Linked DNA regions of Homo sapiens. The protein of the gene in region 2 interacts with the protein of the main gene of each other region in a pairwise test. Each region holds a gene or a part of one and is shown on either strand. Other genes may lie near its edges. The genes, in order: KSR1 and MAP2K2.

Region 1 (9,430 bases), on a different chromosome or scaffold from region 2:
AAACAAGAGTTCCAGAAGGATGGATGCAGTGAAATTCTTCTATGCCAGGGATGCTCTTGCTCTTTCCTGGACAATTAGATGTTGCTCACAGGTAGGTATTGGAGTATTAGCATGATGAAGGGCCTCAGGTCACCGGGGCCAGCCGCCACATATTGTGGATGAGGACATTGAGGTCCACTGATGCTAAGTGAGCTGCACAGCAGGCCAGTGCAGAGCTGCAACTACAACCTGGGTCCCCTGGCAGGATGCCTCTCTCCCCTGTTACCTGGCTAGGGCTCCAGGAGAAGGAAGAGACGTCGCAGAGCCCAGATCTGCTGCCCATCCCTGTTCTTCCTGCTCTCCTTTCAGGCTGAGGAGCCAGAGGCTGGCAAGTCAGAGGCAGAAGACGATGAGGACGAGGTGGACGACTTGCCGAGCTCTCGCCGGCCCTGGCGGGGCCCCATCTCTCGCAAGGCCAGCCAGACCAGCGTGTACCTGCAGGAGTGGGACATCCCCTTCGAGCAGGTAGAGCTGGGCGAGCCCATCGGGCAGGGCCGCTGGGGCCGGGTGCACCGCGGCCGCTGGCATGGCGAGGTGGCCATTCGCCTGCTGGAGATGGACGGCCACAACCAGGACCACCTGAAGCTCTTCAAGAAAGAGGTGATGAACTACCGGCAGACGCGGCATGAGAACGTGGTGCTCTTCATGGGGGCCTGCATGAACCCGCCCCACCTGGCCATTATCACCAGGTAACCAAGCCCTAGGACCTCATGCTGGATGGCCAGCTCAGCCTCCCCCTTCCCAGGGAGCCCTGTTTGTGTGGATGCCCTAGAGGGTGTGGAAGTTCTAATAGAGGCATAAAGAAGAAAACCAAAAATGGGGTATAACTTCCTAATCACATAACCGCATTGACACTAAAAAATAAATAAATATGGGCTGGTGCAGTGGCCCATGTCTGTAATCCCAACACTTTGGGAGGCCAAGGTGGAAGGATTGCTTGAGCCCAGGAGCTTGAGACCAGCCTGGGCAACATACTGAGACGCTGTCTCTACAAAAAAATTAGCTGGGCCTGGTGGCAGGTGCCTGTGCCTGTGGTCTCAGCTACTTGGGAGGCTGAGGCAGGAGGATCGCTTGAGCCCAGGAGGTCAAGGCTGCAGCGAGCCAAGATCATGCCACTGCACTCCAGCCTGGGTGACAGAGTGAGACCTTTCTAAGTTTACAGAAGATCAAATGTCCATAAAAGGTACAGAGTGAAAGCCAGTCTTCTCCCACTGCAACTGAGCGCTTCTCCCCAAAGTCAGAGACACTATAAACAGTTAACATTCCTTCTGTTAAAAGGAAGACATTTGCATATACTCACGTTTTTAAACTGTTTATTCCTTTTTGTAAAAATACAAAGGAGAGATCATGCTGGCTCACACCTTGCCTCCTGCACCCGATTGTGGGTCTGAGGTCTACTCTCTTCTAACACCTGCACAGTATCCCCATCACGTAGGCTGAACCCAGTGGTGTGCTGGTAAATGTGTAACAACCAGTTTTGGGGCAGTATGGAGGGAAGCCCTAATTTATAACATCCATCACTTCCTGTGGTGTAAATACTCTCACCATGGTCAATTTCAGACTACCAATGTTATCTCCTGGAGTGGAGTAGAGTTGGGAAGAGTTGTATAATCAAGAGCTGATCACTGGTGGTCCCGTAATTTATTTACAGAACAAGACTCCATCTCAAAAAAAAAAAAAAAGTAGTTAATGAAAAACAAAACAGGTAATTAATTAATGATAAACTAGACAGGGTCTCGCTCTGTCACCCAGGCTGGAGTGCAGTGGCGTGTTCTTGGCTCACTGCAACCTCTGCCTCCCAGGCTCAAGCAATTTTCGTGCCTCAGCCTCCCAAGTAGCTGGGATTACAGCCGTGTGCCACCACGCCTCGCTAATTTTTATATTTTCAGTAAAGATGAGGTTTCACCGTGTTGGCCAGGCTGGTCTCAAACTCTTGACCTGAGGTGATCCGCCCACCTCAGCCTCCCAAAGTGCTGAGATTACAGGCGTGAGCCACTGTGGCCTGCCTGAAACAGGAAAATATTCATTAACAAAAAAATCTTACTTTGTTTAGAATACGCTGAAGAAAAGTGGGACACAGATAAGGAAATCACCAACCAATATTCTCTACCCCTTGCCTGGTTTTCAAAGGCTCTGAGACTCCAAGAATATTTTCCTAAAAACATAGTCCCTTCCTAAGATAGCTCCCTTGGACCCACATTCTCTCTGGGTCCCTCCTCACCCGGGGTTTTAGGAGTTGATGCAGGTGGCGACCCCAGAACTGAAGCTCCTTTTCCAGTAGTCACCTTGACGCCCCTAACATCTACCCCACCCCCTTTCCCTCCTTGCACACTCCTTTATTGTAATAAAAACCCTGTGATCAAGAAAAAATGAAAACTATAATGAGATTCTTGACAGTGAGCCCCAGAGCCTTGATGTTGCCTGTTGATGCCCTTAAATTAGCCAAGTTCTTCCCCATCAGAGTGGTCCTGCCTTGAACCCACCAAGCATGGCTACTCTGAGTTCCTGAGAGCTTTGATGCACTGTTTCCTGTTGTAGGATGGGCAGGCACTGGCTCTCAGGGAATGGGGGTTTGTGTGCGTGTACGTGTGTGGTGTCATGTGTTTCTGCACGTTCAGGCCAGGCCCCAGCAGGACTGGGCTGGGTTAAAGAAGATTTGGCTCACAGTCGAGGGGCTGGAGAGAGTCCTTGCAGGCAGACGGGCACAGTTCTCCCCATGGGCTCCACCAGGGTTGGGGTCAGGCCGCACCAGCCCCAGACTTGTGCTTGACCCCCACCACCCTCGACAGCTTCTGCAAGGGGCGGACGTTGCACTCGTTTGTGAGGGACCCCAAGACGTCTCTGGACATCAACAAGACGAGGCAAATCGCTCAGGAGATCATCAAGGTGAGGGGGTGCCCAGCTGCTGGGGGTGGGTTTCTGGCCGGTTCCAGGGCTCTCGGCTGTTCCTCTCGCCCTGTTACTCCCTGTTAGGGTGGTTTGGGCAGCTTTGCCTCTCCTTCTAGCTCAGGCTCCTCAAGGGTGGGACCCCATCTCTTCCTCCCTGTCTCTGTCTCATTCATTCAGAGCTGGGAGCTGATTGTCCACATGATTAGGCTTGATGGAATTGACTTGGTTGGGAAGGAACTTGGCAGGCTTTAGAGGCCAGTTTCAATCCTGGTCACACCCTTTGTGTGACCTTGGGTAGGTTTAGCCTCTCTAAGCCTCAGTTTTCTCCCCTGTAAAATGGGGATCTTCATATATCCTCCCTCTCTGGATTGGTGTGAGGTTAAAAACGCGATAATCCATGCTGTGGGGTACACAGGAGCCCTGGGTCTGGTGTTTGAAGACAGCTTGACCTTGGATGAGATCATGCCTATGTCAGGTCACCCACGCTCCATGCACCTGACTCATCAGTGTTAGTTCAAATAGAGCATTGGTTAGAAATCACCCACTGCCACCTCTTCGCTTGATAGGTGAGGAAACCAGTCTTCAGAGAAGTTGAGCACTGTGTCCAAGGCCACAGAGTGAGTGAGAATCTGAGCTGAGATGGAGTTCAAACCCCAGATTTCTTAGTCCAGGGCTCCTTCTACTACAGCTCAGACATTAGGAGCACTCAAAGTTGGGGACCCCGCTGTGGGAATGCCTCTCTGTTCCCCCACCTTGAGCCCTTGTCCTGCCTGAGAGCACAGACCAGCTGTGCATATCCTGACAGAAAACCCCAGCTCATTTAGGCCCTTTATGACTGTACACTGATAAATCTCACTGTCCCTGACCCCCCGGCTCCCTGCCCATCACCCTGTTCACACCTCCTACCTTAGCCAAGGTTAACATGGTTGTTTAGAAGCATGGTAACATTAAAAGAGCATAGACCGGTCTGGGATCAGATCTCAGCTCTGCTTCTTCACTGCTGTGTGGCTTGGAGCAAGTGACTTTCCCTCTCTGAACCTCGATTTCTTCTTCTGTAAAATGGGGACAATATACTGCATGGAATTGTGAAGATCAAATATGGGGATTTAGGTAAATCATCCAGCCCAGGGTGGCACCTCCGTCATCGTTGCACATCTTCACTCCTCCTGATGTGTCCTCCAGGGCATGGGATATCTTCATGCCAAGGGCATCGTACACAAAGATCTCAAATCTAAGAACGTCTTCTATGACAACGGCAAGGTGGTCATCACAGACTTCGGGCTGTTTGGGATCTCAGGCGTGGTCCGAGAGGGACGGTGAGTTGGTCTTGAGTGTCTGGGTGGGTTGTGGGTGCTGGATGGGGAAGAGCAGGGCTGAGGTCTGGGCACTTTCACTGTTTGTTGCTGAGCTGCAGCCCTCCCTGCAGGGAAGCCCAGGTCGCTTTGGTCCTGCCCTCGTAGTTCTGGTTCAGAATCAGATTTGGGTCGCGTTTGGATTCTCAGGCCGACTTCCACGGAAACCAGGTCCCCACACTCACATTTGCCCTGGCTGTTCACCCGCTTGGCCAAGGAACCAGGTCATTTCCCCACGATGAGGAAGAGTGTCAAATTTTATTTCCCCAAATCTTGAAGGGATTGGCATAGGGAGAAAGGCCCCTCCCCTCACATCTAGGGGAACCCAAAAGGGAGCATGGCAGCAAGGCTGCAAGGCCAGCCCCAGCCAAGTTTGAGATCCACAGGCAGATCAGGGTTCCTGGTTAGAGAGGCGCCTCATTCTCCAGCAGAGGGAGCTGGGCACCTTCACCAGCAGCTCCCTGTCAATATTTATCCATTCTTGCCCTGCTTTTCTAGAAACAACCGGTCATGACTCCTTTGTAGAATTCCTCAAAAGCACCGGTGCCTTTCCCAAGTGCAGGGTCAGTGTTCTGGGTCTGGGTGTGTTTTCTAAGCTGTGTGTGGGTGTTCTGCCGGCCCTGGGGCAGACCTGTGCCAGGCAGGCCTCTTTGCTGCCTGCTGAAAGGCCTGTGTCCTTGTCCCGGCTTCCTGGTCTCCAGGCGTGAGAACCAGCTAAAGCTGTCCCACGACTGGCTGTGCTATCTGGCCCCTGAGATTGTACGCGAGATGACCCCCGGGAAGGACGAGGATCAGCTGCCATTCTCCAAAGCTGCTGATGTCTATGCATTTGGGTGAGTAGGCCCCTGGTGCCCTGAGGCCAAGTGTGGCCAAAACAGAGGGCCCTGGTGGCCATTGGGGGCAGAGGGAGGCATGCTTTTAGGTGTTGAAAACCCAGGCTCTGGAGTAAAAAATCAACCTTGAGTCCTGGCTCTGCCGCTTGTTGAGTGCATGGTCTTGAGTCCTGGCTCTGCCGCTTGTTGAGTGCATGACTATATCCTTGACCTGGAATAGCTCCTCCCAACAAGGTCATTTCATGAGGACTAAATCAGGTAATTGTGTGCAGTGCTTAACACTGGCTGTCAGCCCCACCCAGCTGATCTGGGAGGATGCTCACCAGAGCTGACCAAGAACTGCTCCTCCCAGTCTGGGGGAGCTGGATATCCTGCCGGCTCTGCTACCCCACAAAGACCTGGGTGCTGACCAGTAGCAATATAATGTGAGCCCGATATAGAAGTTAAAGTTTTCTAATAGCCACATTAAAAAAGAAATGGATGAAATTAGTTTCCCCTGTTTATGTTTTATATATTATAAAACGATATATTTTATTTAACTCAATATATCCAAAATATTATTTCAACATGTAATCAATATACAAATTAATAAGATATTTTATATTCTTTTTTCCTACTAAGTCTTTAAAATCTGGTGTGTTTTCTGCCTAGAGCACCCCTCCATTCAACTGTGCACATTTCAGTCACTCAGTAGCCCCCCTGTGGCAAGAGGCTCCCACATTGGACAGTGTGGGTCTGATGGAGAAAGTCCCATCCCAAGTGAAGAAAGCCAAGGGGACGTAGAGAGGCCAAGGAAGGCTCACCACCCCGGTCACCTGTGCTGTATCTGGGTATCCTTCCCAGTGGGGTGGCCTTGGCGCCATCCTTCCTCCCTGACCTTTAACTGTATCCTTTCCTGAGCACCCATGTGTGCCAGGTGCTGGGCTTGGCAATTTAGTACTCCTCAAACAACCCTGTGACAAGAGACATTAGCCCCACTGAGGTGAAGCAGTTTTACTGGGATCTTGCAGCTAGAAGGTGGCAGAGCTGGATTTGTGCTGAGGTCAGAATGACCACCAAGGCTCCGGTCAAACCTGCGCTGTCTCAGACTTCCCACCCAACGAGAGCACAGGGCCCAGGTCCTCTAGGGCTGGGAGGAGCCTCCAGGAGCCCACTGTAGCATCCCCTGAAGCCAAGTGGGTGAGGAAGGCTGGAGAAGGGTCCTGATCCTCTGGCTGGGCTATGGCTCAAGGGCCCCTGGGCTTGAGCTGGGCACAGCGGCCCAGGAGCTCACAGACATGGCTGGGTCTCTGCAGGACTGTTTGGTATGAGCTGCAAGCAAGAGACTGGCCCTTGAAGAACCAGGCTGCAGAGGCATCCATCTGGCAGATTGGAAGCGGGGAAGGAATGAAGCGTGTCCTGACTTCTGTCAGCTTGGGGAAGGAAGTCAGTGTAAGTAGTACCTGCCCTGGGTGGAGCAGTAGGGCTGGAGGTGGGGTGGGGCATGTGGCATGGCTGCCCTTCACTCACCCACCTGAGAAATGGGGTCGGTGAGGAGCTCTGCCACCTGCACGTGTCTAGCTAGAGATGAAAATGATATGCATTGCCCGGGAATGGGGAAGGAACAGGGAGGCATAAATAAGAAAATATCTATCCTCACCCCACTGCTCACCCTTTTCATTCCTTTCAGTCTTTTTTTTTTCTTAAAGATAATGGTTTTCATTGATTTATGAGATGAAAAGAAAGTAAAGCCCCATGTTATTTACATGAAAGAAGATAATTTTTTTTAAAAAAATCACTGCTGAAAATACAAATAGTTGTGCTATGCTGTGGTATTAAATCTTTCCTCATAATGTTTTTCTTGACTATTAAGAACAAATCAAAGTTTCCACAGCAAACTTGTTTTCAAAAAACCAAGTCTTAATTATAGTGGCCGACTTCTCATTTCTACATGGTTTCTCCTTAATGGATTCTCTGTGTTTGTAAGTTTTGTCAGGCTAAATAAGAGAGAGAGGCTCTCAAAAGATGTTTATTTGGAAATAGAGCGTTGCACTGGGAATATGCATGCCATGGTGAATGGCTTGCTTATTCAGGGAGGTAAAGGAAAAAATGAAGAGGATTACACAATTATTTTGACATATTTAGTAGTTTTCCCTGGCTACAGAGATGAGTAACAAGAGTGATGTCAGTCCAAGGTTAGACAGGTTGTTTGAGGCAGATGTCCTTGTAGGAGTATTTTTGTATAAGGTTGCCATGGCCTTCGTACAAGGTTGCAGTTTTTGCAGTCTTTAGTGGTAGTTTTTGTTATCAGACATACAAGCCCAAGAAGCCTCTCTTCATGGCTTTCCCAGGCCCGATTTGTCAGAGTTTTCTTCACATTTGTGACTCTCTTTTGATTCTGACAGCTTTCAGTTTCCTTTATCACAGCACAGTGATATATAAAGAAACTCCAGGGCTTGGTGTTTTCAGTGCCATCAGTGATAGCCATGTGTCCATGAATCAGATAGGATTGGGACAGAACAGCCTTGATGTTAATAAGCAACTCCAGTCAGTATTTGGGCAGCATAACAATTGAAGTCTTCAGAGGGACCACCCAGCACTTGTCCAGGCTAAGATACAAACAGGCTGTGAGCTTCTTGTTAAGGTCATGAACATTGCTGGCAGGATCACTGTCTGTCTGCAGACTCTGTCTGCAAATTTGCAGTGATGAATTCAACCTCATCGTCCTCCAAGTTCTTAATAGATGGTAATATTTTTCTCAATTGACTGGTGGCAAGCAGCTAGGGCGTCTTCAGAAGGCTCACTCAAGATGACATTATATCTGATCTACTTTATTCCACAGTAGTATATGTCATCTTGTTGAAGTGCAAAATATTTGTACGGGGATGCCCCTCCAAAGATGACACCAAAATGCTATTTAACAACACGAACAGCAGGCTCCTCTTTGGCCAGTTGATACCATTTCATCTGGGGTGCTGGGCAAGGGCCATGGGTGATGAGCACTTCTCTGACACTCTGAGGCCCGTCCTTCTTGGCCTCCTTCTGGGCCAGGGCCAGTTAAACACCACCTTCACCTTGGTGCATCCTCGGGTGCCTTAGGAGCGTGTGGTGGTGATGCAGAATTTTTTGCTCCTTAGCTCAGCTAAAATCCAGGTTCTTGTCTCATGACCAGGAAAAATTAGGCATGCGGACACATTGAAAGGTGAGGAGAGTGGAATTCATTAAAAGAAACCTCTCAGCAAAAAAGAGGGGGTCCTCCCAACAGGCTCCCATCTCACAGATTGAATATCAGGCCACCACACACGAGCTGAAGAGGCCAGGCTCCTCCCCTGCATAAGGCGCGAATTCCTGGTGGCTCCACCCTATTCCCCCAGTGCATGTGGGTCTCCAGTCCATTGTGGGTGTACCCAGGCAAGACCCTGTGCAGGTTCCCTCATCTGCACAAAAACATCTGTTGTAAACACTTGTGGGGCAGGATGGAGGTTCTCCAGGGACCCTTCTTTATCTGCCTCCTGCAACTGTCAGTGGGCTCAAGATACAGGTTTTGGGCTCCTGGCTGTGGCTGCAGCCTCCTTGGCTGAGCTCTGGGGCAGCTCAGATGGCAGCTGAAGTAACCACTGCTTTCCAGTCTTTTTAAATTTTTTTTGAAGCAGTTTTGCTCTGTCGCCCAGGCTGAAGTGCAGTGGCACGATCTTGGCTCACTGCAACCTCTGCTTCCCAGGTTCAAGTGATCTCCCGCCTCAGCCTCCAAGTAGCTGGGATTACAAGCATGCACCAAAATATCCAGCTAATTTTTGTATTTTTAGTAGAGATGGGGTTTCACCATGTTGGCCAAGCTGGTCTCAAACTCCTGGCCTCAAGGGATCCATCTGCCTCAGCCTCCCAAAGTGCTGGGATTACAGGCATGAGCCCCCATGCCTGGCATAGTCTTTTAAAAAAATATTTAAGACATACATATCATAAAACCTAGCTGATTTTTTTATTGTGACTTTTTCCACATGACATTTTATTATGCTCATTACCTCAAATCATTAACAAATCCTTATTGTTAAGACTGTCTGCCCTTATGTCCTGTGGCCGCACCATAATGTAACTACTTCTGTCACTGGACATGGGGATTCTTTCCAGTTTTAACCTCTCTTTACAAGAGTTAGCAAGGACATCTTTGTATAAACCAGAGTATTATGTATATTTGTTGCATCTGAGAGAAAAGATATTCTTCGTTCTGCCCTCCTGGCAACAGTTTGTTTCCTTTCTGCATACTTAGCATCTTGGAGCAGAGAATGGTAAGTGCCATCTTCAGGGAGGCAAAGGCTGGAGCAGAGCTGAGCAAAGGGC
Region 2 (10,315 bases):
CTGCTCTTGAATTCCTGGGTTCAAGCCACCTGCCCACCTTGGCCTCCCAAAGTGCTGGGATTACAGACATAAGCCACTGCACCTGGCTGAAATTAATTTTAATAACACATTTGATTTAACCCATCAAAAATGTTATCATTTTCAACGTACAACCAGTATGAAAAATGAATGAATGTTTCACACTGTTTCCGTCTTAAGCCTTTGAAATCTACAATGGCATTATTGCGCCTATGCTCTCGTGGGTTTGGGCAATTCTTGTTTTATGTGTTGCCTGTAGCCAGGGGCTACTCAACCAGGCAGTGCAGCTTTAAATGGCTCTCTGGAAGAACAGGCCACCTCCAGAGGTCCCAATTCAGGAAGGAGCTAAAGCCAAGGTGGACAGCCAGAGAGGGGACTGAAGCAGGGAATGAAGGCGTGGACTGCTCCTTCCATCTGGAAATTTCCAATCCCAAAGTTCGACCACTGTTCGCCTACAGCTGGAAGTGGCGTAAGCCACGGGGCACACAGGCCAGAACCGAGGCGATGGCGCTGGAGCTGGTGCTGCAAAGAGCTCGCTGGAAGGCAGGGGCCTGGGCACCGCTTCCTGGGCTGGACAAACACCATCTCATTCCATTCTCACCATCGTCCCCGGAGGCCCAGGCAGGAGGGAACAGACTCACAGGGGTGGGGGAACCTGCCCGAGGTAACAACACCTGCCTGAGGTCAGGACAACCCCTGCTCATCTTAGTGTCCCCCATGAGGGGAAACAGGGCCCTAGTAGGTGCTCACTGAGGAGCTGCTGAACAAGGACCCAGAAGAAGCAGAAATGGCGAGACCCTGGGAGTGGGACAGAAGGTAAGGAGGGGAACATGAATGAATGAATGAATAACATCAATGAATAAATGAATATTTATTTTTTTTGAGACAGTCTTGCTCTGTCGCCCAGGCTGGAGTGCACTGGCACGATCTCAGCTCACTGCAACCTCTGCCTCCTGGGTCCAAGCGATTCTCCTGCCTCAGCCTCCTGAGTAGCTGGGATTACAGGTGTGCATCACCGCGCTCAGCTAATTTTTTTGGCATTTTTAATAGAGACGGGGTTTTGCCATGTTGGCCAGGTTGGTCTTGAACTCTGGGCCTCAAGTAATCCACCCACCTTGGCCTCCCAAAGGGCTGGGATTACAGGCGTGAGCCACCACACCCAGCCATGAATGAACACTTCTGATGGCAGACTTGGAAGGTCTCAAGTACTGCTCAAAACATTGAAAATGCATTCTGGAGTCAGCTGACTAATCCATCTTAAATTTACTGGCAACCCAACTGTGGTTATTAAACAAAACAAAACAAAACCTTGGCGTCCCTACAGCCAGCTTCCTCTCCTGGGGGAATCCTTCAAGAGATGGGAATCAAACCCCACACGGAAGAGAAATGTGAAGGGCGAGTTCTGTGCAGAGAATGAGGAACGGGTCCCCGTGTCTGGCTGTGCCCGTGTTGACTTGCACACATTGGCATCAAGAGTCTTCATCTGGGTCACAGAAGGCCGACCCCCAAGCGGGAGAGGCCACCAGACATGCCACAGTCCCTGACACCTGGTTCTTGAGGGGTCACACCGCAGGCACGGCACCCGGACCCCAGCCAAGGGCCCCGGGGATCGCCCTGCCCTGCCTCGGCCTGCAGAACGGGAGTGCAGAGATCACCCTGGCATGACCCCACCAGTGTGTGCCCCCAACACCCAGTCCCCTCCCTCGTCCTGGAGCAGTGCGATTCTGCCAGCACGCCACCCGGACCCCAGCATACCCCTTTCTCAGATCCCTTCACCCAGGCCTCTGGTCGCCCTCCACCTCCTCAAAGCTTCTGCACTGGGTCAGCCCCTCACAAGGGTTTTCCGGTCCACTCACTTCAGAATCTGCACCTCTGCTTTCAGGGGCCAGCAGGGTCCCCTGATCCCCACGCCTCCTCGTTCCTCACACTCTGGCTTCCCTGTCTCCTCACACTTCCAGCTTCAGGGACTCCACACACTGGGCACCGCCACAAGCAGGAGATGCCCTCTCAGAGATGCCCATCTTGACATCTTGACCTCCCTGGGACCCCATCCTGACCCCCTCAGAACCCCAACATGAGACCCCTAGGACCCCCTGCTCTGCCCTCCCAGAACCCCCACAACATGACCCCCCGAGGACCCCCTAACCTGACCCCCCCAGAATCCCCCAACATGACCCCCGAGGACCCAACCTGACCCCCCCCACAACATGAACCCCCTGGAACCCCTGTCCTGATCCCACTAGACCTCCCCCAGCAGAAACCCCTCCATCTGGAACCCGCTAGAACTCCCATCCTGACCCCGCTAAAGCCCCCCCATGTCCTGACACCCCTAAGACACCCCCTTGTCCTCAGATACCCCAGAACTCCCACCCTGACCCCCCCAAAGTCCCCCGATCCTGACCTTTCTAGGGTCTCCCACCCCATCGTGACCCCCTAGGACACCCCTCTCCCACATCCTGACCCTTCTGGGAGCCCCCTGTCCTCCCCTCTCTTCCCTTTTCCCTGGTTGTCTATGGACCTCCTCACCCCATCCTCTCCCCTAAGGGACCCCCCTGCCCCACCTTGGCACCCTAGGTGCCCTCTTCATCCCATGCCAACCTCATTACTCAGGGACTCATTCCCCAAAAGGACCGCTCCCCGCCCCCCCAAGACCTCTCAGCCTGTCCTCCCCACCCAGGTGCTGCACTCTCAACCTGTGGCTCAGGCACCCTCCCACCCCATCTCTCCCCCATAGGAACCCTCCCACCCCATCTCTCCCCCATAGGGACCCTCCCACCCCATCTCTCCCCCATAGGGACCCTCCCACCCCATCTCTCCCCCATAGGGACCCTCCCACCCCATCTCTCCCCCACAGGGACCCCCTCACCCCATCTCTCCCCCATAGGGACCCCCTCACCCCATCTCTCCCCCATAGGGACCCTCCCACCCCATCTCTCCCCCATAGGGACCCCCTCACCCCATCTCTCCCCCATAGGAACCCTCCCACCCCATCTTTCCCCCATAGGGACCCCCTCACCCCATCTCTCCCCCAAGGGACTCGCTTCACTATCATTTCAATATGCAGAACACCCCTTGCCTATCCTTCCCCCACAGGCCCCCACCGACACATCCTCTCCTCCCAGGGACCCCCTCAACCCCATCTCACAATTCAGGGGCCCTGCACCCCATCTTCTCTCTGCAAGGACATCTCCTTGGCCTGATCTCACGACTTAGGGATTCCAAACCCCATCTTTTCCCCAAAGGGATCTCCCCTCACTCCAATCTCATTACTCAGGGACCCCACCATCTCCCCGATTTCACTATTCAGGGACCGTTCACCCCATTTCACTACTCAGAGACCTACCACCATTCTGCTACTCAGTGACTCCATGCCCTGTCTTTTCCCACAGGGACCTCCCTTGGCCCTATCTCATTATTGAGGGACCCTTACCCCGTCTTTTCCTACCAGGGACCCTACCCCATCTCAGTCTCATTACTCAGGGACCCCTCACCCCATCCTCTCCCCTCTGGAGCCCCCTTGCCCAGATTTCCTCCTCAGGGGCTGCCTGACCTCCCCACACCCCATCCTCTCCTCTCAGGAATGCCCTGCACCCCGATTTCCCTACTCAGGGTCTCCCCTCACCCTCATCTCATGACTACGGCAACCTTTACTCCGTCCTTTCCTCTTAGGAACTCTTCACCCTCATTTCACTACTCAAGGACCCCACACTGTGTTCTCTCCTCTTAGAGATACCCCTCACCCCGATCTCACTGCTTGGGGAGCCTCATCCTGTTCTCTCCTTGGGGACACCCCTCATTCCGATTTTCCTACTGAGGGACTCCCCTCACCCCAGCTTCACTTTTCAGAAGCCCCACACCCCATCTTCTGCACTGCAGGGACCTCCCCTCACTCAACCTCGCTGCTCAGGGACCCCTGTCCCCATCCTCTCCTCTTAGAGACATCCTTCACCCCAACTTCACTACTCAGAGACTCCCGTTATCCCAATTCCACTCTTCAGGAACCCCACACCCCATCTTTTCCACCACAAGGACCTCCCCTCGCCCAATCTCACTGCTCAAAGACCCCCCTGCCCCGTGCACCCTTCGCCCCGTCCTCCGAGGGCCCCCTGCCCCGTCCTCCCCCGAGGGCCCCCTGCCCCGTCCTCCCCCGAGGGTCCCCTGCCCTGTCCTCCCCTCGAGAACCCCCTGCCCCGTGCACCACTCACCCCGTCCTCCCCCGTGACCCCCCTGCCTCGTGCACTCCTCGCGAACCCCCGTCCCCTCGCCCCGTCCTTCCCCGAGGGCTCCCTGCCCCGTGCACCCCAAGCCTCCGGCTGACCCCTGCCCACTCACTCGGAGGCGCCCTCGCTGGTAGGGGATGGGCCCTCGGCGATGGTAGGGTTGATGGTGAGCGCCGGCAGCACCGGCTTCCTCCGGGCCAGCATCGGGGCTCCGCGGGCCGGCGGCGGCGGCGCCTCTAGCCGGGGCCCATAGGGGGCGGGCCGGGAGCGGTCGGCGCCTACGCGAGCCCGGGGCTGCGGCCGCGGCCCAGGCCGGCGTCGGGGCGGCCGAGGGCGGGCGGCGCTGCGGGCCTGGGCCGAGGGTAGCCGAGGGGCGCTGGGGCTGAGGCGAGCGAGCCGCTACCGCTGCCGAGGCCCGAAGAAGGCTGACGCCGCAGCCCGAGTCCGAGAGGCAGGGGGAGGGGAGGGGCGGCCACAAGATCGCGGACCGGCTTCTCGCGATAACGGGATCGGGAGCCGCGATGGACCCCACCCCCAGCCGCCGCGCCTGCGCAGCAGCACAAGGCCGCCTTTCGGAGGGGAAAGGGGCGGAGACCGACGCGAGGCGGTGCCGGGACCGGGCGCCCTCGCTTGCCTTACCACGGCGCGTGTGCCCAAGCGCTTGGGGCATGAGGCGCGGGAGCAGGGGAGGAGACGGAGGGATGAAGGCTGGGGTGATGGTCGTGCACAGGTGGGCAGGGTAGCCAGACTCCTGAGAGCCTGTGGTGCCCCAGGCTGGGGCTGAGAGAACCCGTAAGACCCCAGAACAGTGGACGAGACCCACCCAGAGTCCATTTAATCTTTTTGGCAAGCGTGGACACACGCCCCTAGCCCCCACCGCCTTAGAGTGTCAGTTACTCCCCCTCCTTCATCAGAACAAGGCCACTCTAAAACATTTTTAAAATTTATTTTAATTGACAAATAAAATTGCATATATTACTATGCGCATGTTGAAACATTTTTATTATAAAATACACATAACATAAAACTTGTCATTTTAACCATTTCTAAATGCACAGCTCAGCGGCATTAAGCAACCACCACCACCACCATCTCCAGAATTTTCTCATCTTCCGAAACTGAAACACTGTCCCCTATGAAACCTCACTCCCTATCCCCCTCCCCAGCCCCTGGAACCCAACGTCGTACTTCCTGTGAATCTGATGATTCTAGGGACTTCATATGAGTAGGATCACACAGGTTTTGTCCCTTTGTGGCTGGCATATTTCACTGAGGGCCACGTCCTCAAGGTGCCTGTTGTAGCTGTGTTAGATCCACGTTGTAACCTGTGTTAGAATTTACCCACTTGACTACTCCGGGCATACTTCCAATCGGGTAGCCCTGCTCCAAAAAAGAGCAGAAAAAAAAAAAAAAAGAAAAATTTCCCTTTTTTTTTTTTTGAGACGGAGTCTCGCTCTGTCACCCAGGCTGGAGTGCAGTGGTGCGATCTCGGCCCACTGCAAACTCTGCCTCCCGGGTTCACGCCATTCTCCTGCCTCAGCCTCCCGAGTAGCTGGGACTACAGGTGCCCACCACCATGCCCGGCTAATTTTTTTGTATTTTTAGTAGAGACGGGGTTTCACCGTGTTAGCCAGGATGGTCTCCATCTCCTGACCTCGTGATCCACCCGCCTCGATCTCCCAAAGTGCTGGGATTACAGGCGTGAGCCACCGCACCCAGTCAGGATTTTCCTCCTTTTTAAGGCTGAATAATATTCTATTGTGTGCATGGACTATATTTTGCTTATCCATTTATCTGCCACTAGACACTTCGGTGAATCGTGCCGCTATGAACACAGATGTACAAATATCTGTTTGAGTCCTTGCCTTGAGTTCTTTTGGGTATATGTTCTGAAGAGGAATTACTGGATTATATGGTAATTCTATGTTGAACTTTTTGAAGCACCACCTTACTATTTAATACAATAGCCGTACCACTTTATAAGAAAGGTCATAGGCTGGGCGCGGTGGCTCACGCCTGTAATCCCAGCACTTTGGGAGGTCGAGGCGGGTGGATCACCTGAGGTCAGGAGTTGAAGACGAGTCTGGCCAACATGGTGAAACCCCGTCTCTACTAAAACAAAAAAATACAAAAATTAGCCGGGCATGGTGGCGCGTGCCTGTAATCCCAGCTACTCGCGAGGTTGAGGCAGAAGAATTGCTTGAACCCGGGAGGCAGAGGTTGCAGTGAGCCAAGATCACGCCATTGCACTCCAGCTTGGGAGACAAGAGCGAGACTTCGTCTCAAAAAAATCAAACAAACAAACAAACAAACAAATAAATAAATAAAATACAAAAATTAGCCAGGCCTGGCGGTGTGTGCCTATAGTCTCAGCTACTCAGGCGGCTGAGGCAGGAGAATCGCTTGAACCCGGGGGGCAGACGTTGCAGTGAGCCAAGATTGCACCACTGCCCTCCAGCCTGGGCGACAAAGTAAGACTCCGTCTCCAATAAAACAGAACAAAAAAAAATTTAATTTTTTGCCAGGTGCCGTGGCTCACACCTGTAATCCCAGGACCCTGGGAAGCTGAGGTGGGCTGATCACTTGAGGTCAGGAGTTCGAGACCAACCTGGCCAACATGGTGAAACCTCGTCTCTACTAAAAATACAAAAATTACACAGGTGTGGTGGCGGGTGGCTGTAATTCCAGCTACTAGGGAGGCTGAGGTGGGATAACTGAACCCCGGAGGCGGAGGTTGCAGTGAGCCGAGATTGTGCCATCGCATTCCAGCCTGGGCGACAGAGCCAGACTCACGCTCAAAAAACAAAACCAACCAACTGGCCGGGCGCGGTGGCTCACGCCTGTAATCCCAGCACTTTGGGAAGCCAAGGCAGGTGGATCATGAGGTCAAGAGATTGAGACTATCCTGGCCAACATGGTGAAACCCCGTCTCTACTAAAAATACAAAAATTAACTGGGTGTGGTGATGCGTGCCTGTAGTCCCAGCTACTCGGGAGGCTGAGGCAGGAGAATCGCTTAAACCCGGGAGGTGGAGGTTGCAGTGAGCCGAGATCACGCCATTGCACTCCAGCCTGGGCGACCGACCGAGACTCCATCTCGAAAAAAACAAAACAAAACAAAACAACAAACAAAACACTGCTCCTGGGGAAGCCTGCTCCTGGGTTTTTACAATCTGGGCCTTTCAGTTTTACTTCTCATCGCTCCCACCCGCTTGTCCAAAATTCAGATGGATGCATATGTGGCCTCAAATAAGGACAGGCCCTTTCAGAGACAGGGCTATTTCCATGTTCCTTCTGTTTTGCCTAGCAATCTTTCTCCCATTTTATCCTATTTTAGGCTTTTTTTTTCTTTTTAAGACAAGTTCTGACTCTGTCACCCAGGCCTCAGGCTGGAGTGCAGTGGCACGATCATAACTCTCTGCAGCCTCCACCTCCCTGGCTCAAGCGATTCTCCCACCTCAGCCTCCCTAGTAGCCCTGGCTACAAACATACGCCACCACACTCGGCTAATTTTTGTATTTTTTGTCCAGACAGGGTTTCTCCATGTCACTCAGGCTGGTCTCACACTCCTAGGCTCAAGCGATCCTCCTGCCTCGTCCTCAGCAGTGCTGGGACTAGAGCCGTGAGCCACTGCACTCACCTATTAATGCACAAGTTTCTGAAGTTCAATTTCTTGGATTATTACAACTCTATACATCCATGTAACACTTCCCCTTACTCCAGAAAGTCTGTTCACTGCCTTTTTAGTTCATTCTCTTCCTCTGCACCCAGCAGTAGTGAGCTGGTAAATGTTTAACAATGAGCCATTAAAATAAGGAGAGGCCGGGTGTGGTGGCTCACACCTGCAATCCCAGCACTTTGGGAGGCCAAAGCAGGTGATCACTTGAGGTCAGGAGTTCGAGTCCAGCCTGGCCAACATGGTGAAACCCCATCTCTACTAAATATACAAAAATTAGGCTGGTCACGGGTGTAATCACAGCACTTTGGCAAGCCGAGGTGGGCAGATCACCTGAGGTCAAGAGTTCAAGACCAGCCTGACCAACATGGTGAAACCCCGTCTCTACTAAAAACACACAAAAATTAGCCGGGCATGGTGGTGGGCACCTGTAATCCCAGCTACTCGGGAGGCTGAGGCAGGAGAACTGCTTGAACCCCGGAGGTGGAGGTTGCAGTGAGCCAAGATTGTGCCCCTGCACTCCAGCCTGGGCAACAGAGTAAGGCTCCATCTCGGAAAAAAAAAAAAAATTAGCTGGGCATGGTGGCAGGTGCCTGTAGTCTCAGCTACTTGGGAGGCTGAGGCACGAGAATTACTTGAACCTGAGAGGTGGAGGTTGCAGTGAGCCAAGATCGTGCCACCGCACTCCAGCCTGAGGGAGACTCTGTCTCAAAAAAAAAAAAAAAAAGAAGAAGACCAGATGTGGTGGCTCATGCCTATAATCCCTGCACTTTGGGAGGCCGAGGCGGGTGGATCACCTGAGGTCGGGAGTTCGATACCAGCCTGACCAACATGGACAAACCCTGTCTCTACTAAAAATACAAGGCCGGGCGCGGTGGCTCACGCCTGTAATCCCAGCACTTTGGGAGGCTGAGGCAGGCAGATCACGAGGTCAGGAGATCGAGACCAGAGACCATCCTGGCTAACACAGTGAAACCCTGTCTCTACTAAAAATACAAAAAAATTAGCCAGGCGTGGTGGCGGGCACCTGTAGTTCCAGCTACTCAGGAGGCTGAGGCAGGAGAATGGTGTGAACCCGGGAGGTGGAGCTTGCAGTGAGCTGAGATTTCGCCACTGCACTCCAGCCTGGGCAAGAGAGCAAGACTCTGTCTAAAAAAATAAATAAATAAAAATAAAAATACAAAACTAGCCAGGTGTGGTGGCACATGCCTGTAATCCCAGCTACGAGGGAGGCTGAGGCAGGAGAATCGCTTGAACCCAGGAGGTGGAGGTTGTGGTGAGCCGAGATGGTGCCACTGTACTCCAGCCTGGGCAACGAGAGTGAAAGTCAGTCTCAAAAAAAATAAAGTTGACAATGGTATCAAAGATGCTTACGAGTGGCTGTAAGCCAGCTGCAGTCCACTACTACTCCCAAAACCCCCCCAGATTCTGCGTTCTATCCCCATAGATTAGTTTTTGCCTGTTCAAGAGTTTCATGTAAATGGAATTGCACTCATGGTGTCAGTTCTTTTTTTTTTTTTTTTTTTTTGAGACAGAGTCTCACTCTGTCACCCAGGCTGGAGTGCAGTGGCACGATCTCGGCTCACTGCAACTTCCACCTCCGAGGTTCAAGCGATTCCCGTGCCTCAGCCTCCGGAGTAGCTGGGATTATAGGCGTGTGCTACCACACCCAGCTAATTTTTGTATTTTTAGTAGAGATGGGGTTTCACCATATTGGCCAGGCTGGTCTTGAACTCCTGATCTCGTGATCCACCTGCCTCGGCCTCCCAGAGTGCTGGAATTATAGGCTGGGATTACAGGCGTGAGCCACCGCACCCGGCCTGGTGTCAGCTCTTTCTGCTTTAGGACAATGTTTTGTTTTTGGTTTTGGTTTTGTTTTAGACAGGATTTTCCTTTATTGCACAGGCTGGAGTGTAGTGGTGTGATCTCAGCTCACTACAGCCTCCACTTTCTGGGCTCAAGCCATCCTCCCACCTCAGCCTCCGGAGTAGCTGGGACTACAGGCTCCCACCGCCATGCCCAACTAATTTTATATTTTTTGTGGAGATGGGGGGGTCTCATCATGTTGCCCATGCTGGTCTCAAACTCCTAGGCTCAAATGACCCCAGTGACTTGGCCTCCCAAAGTGCTGGGATTACAGGCGTCAGTCACTGTACCAGGTCCTGAGACAATATTTTTGAGATTCATTTATATTATTTCACATAACGATAATTAGTTCGGTTTCCTTGCTAGATGATATCCCATTGTATGTACTGTGGGCATTGCCCTTGACATAGAACAGTAAATGAATCATCCTTCTGGCCGGGCGCGGTGGCTCACGCCTCTAATCCCAGCACTTTGGGAAGCCGAGGCGGGTGGATCACGAGGTCAGGAGATCAAGACCATCCTGACTAACATGGTGA

The links.
Region 1: the proteins of MAP2K2 (region 2) and KSR1 interact in binary tests that used the Homo sapiens proteins (3 or more experiments, as listed by UniProt).

Annotation. Positions count from the first base shown.
Region 1 is NC_000017.11:27,605,086-27,614,515, forward strand, and holds part of KSR1 (kinase suppressor of Ras 1), read left to right. Parts: intron 1-348; coding exon 349-728; intron 729-2,828; coding exon 2,829-2,925; intron 2,926-4,110; coding exon 4,111-4,244; intron 4,245-4,981; coding exon 4,982-5,113; intron 5,114-5,764; exon of another isoform or gene 5,765-6,292; intron 6,293-6,408; coding exon 6,409-6,544; intron 6,545-9,430.
Region 2 is NC_000019.10:4,119,434-4,129,748, forward strand, and holds the start of MAP2K2 (dual specificity mitogen-activated protein kinase kinase 2), read right to left. Parts: upstream 4,690-10,315; 5' UTR 4,443-4,689; coding exon 4,351-4,442; intron 1-4,350. UniProt on the Homo sapiens protein: Catalyzes the concomitant phosphorylation of a threonine and a tyrosine residue in a Thr-Glu-Tyr sequence located in MAP kinases. Activates the ERK1 and ERK2 MAP kinases.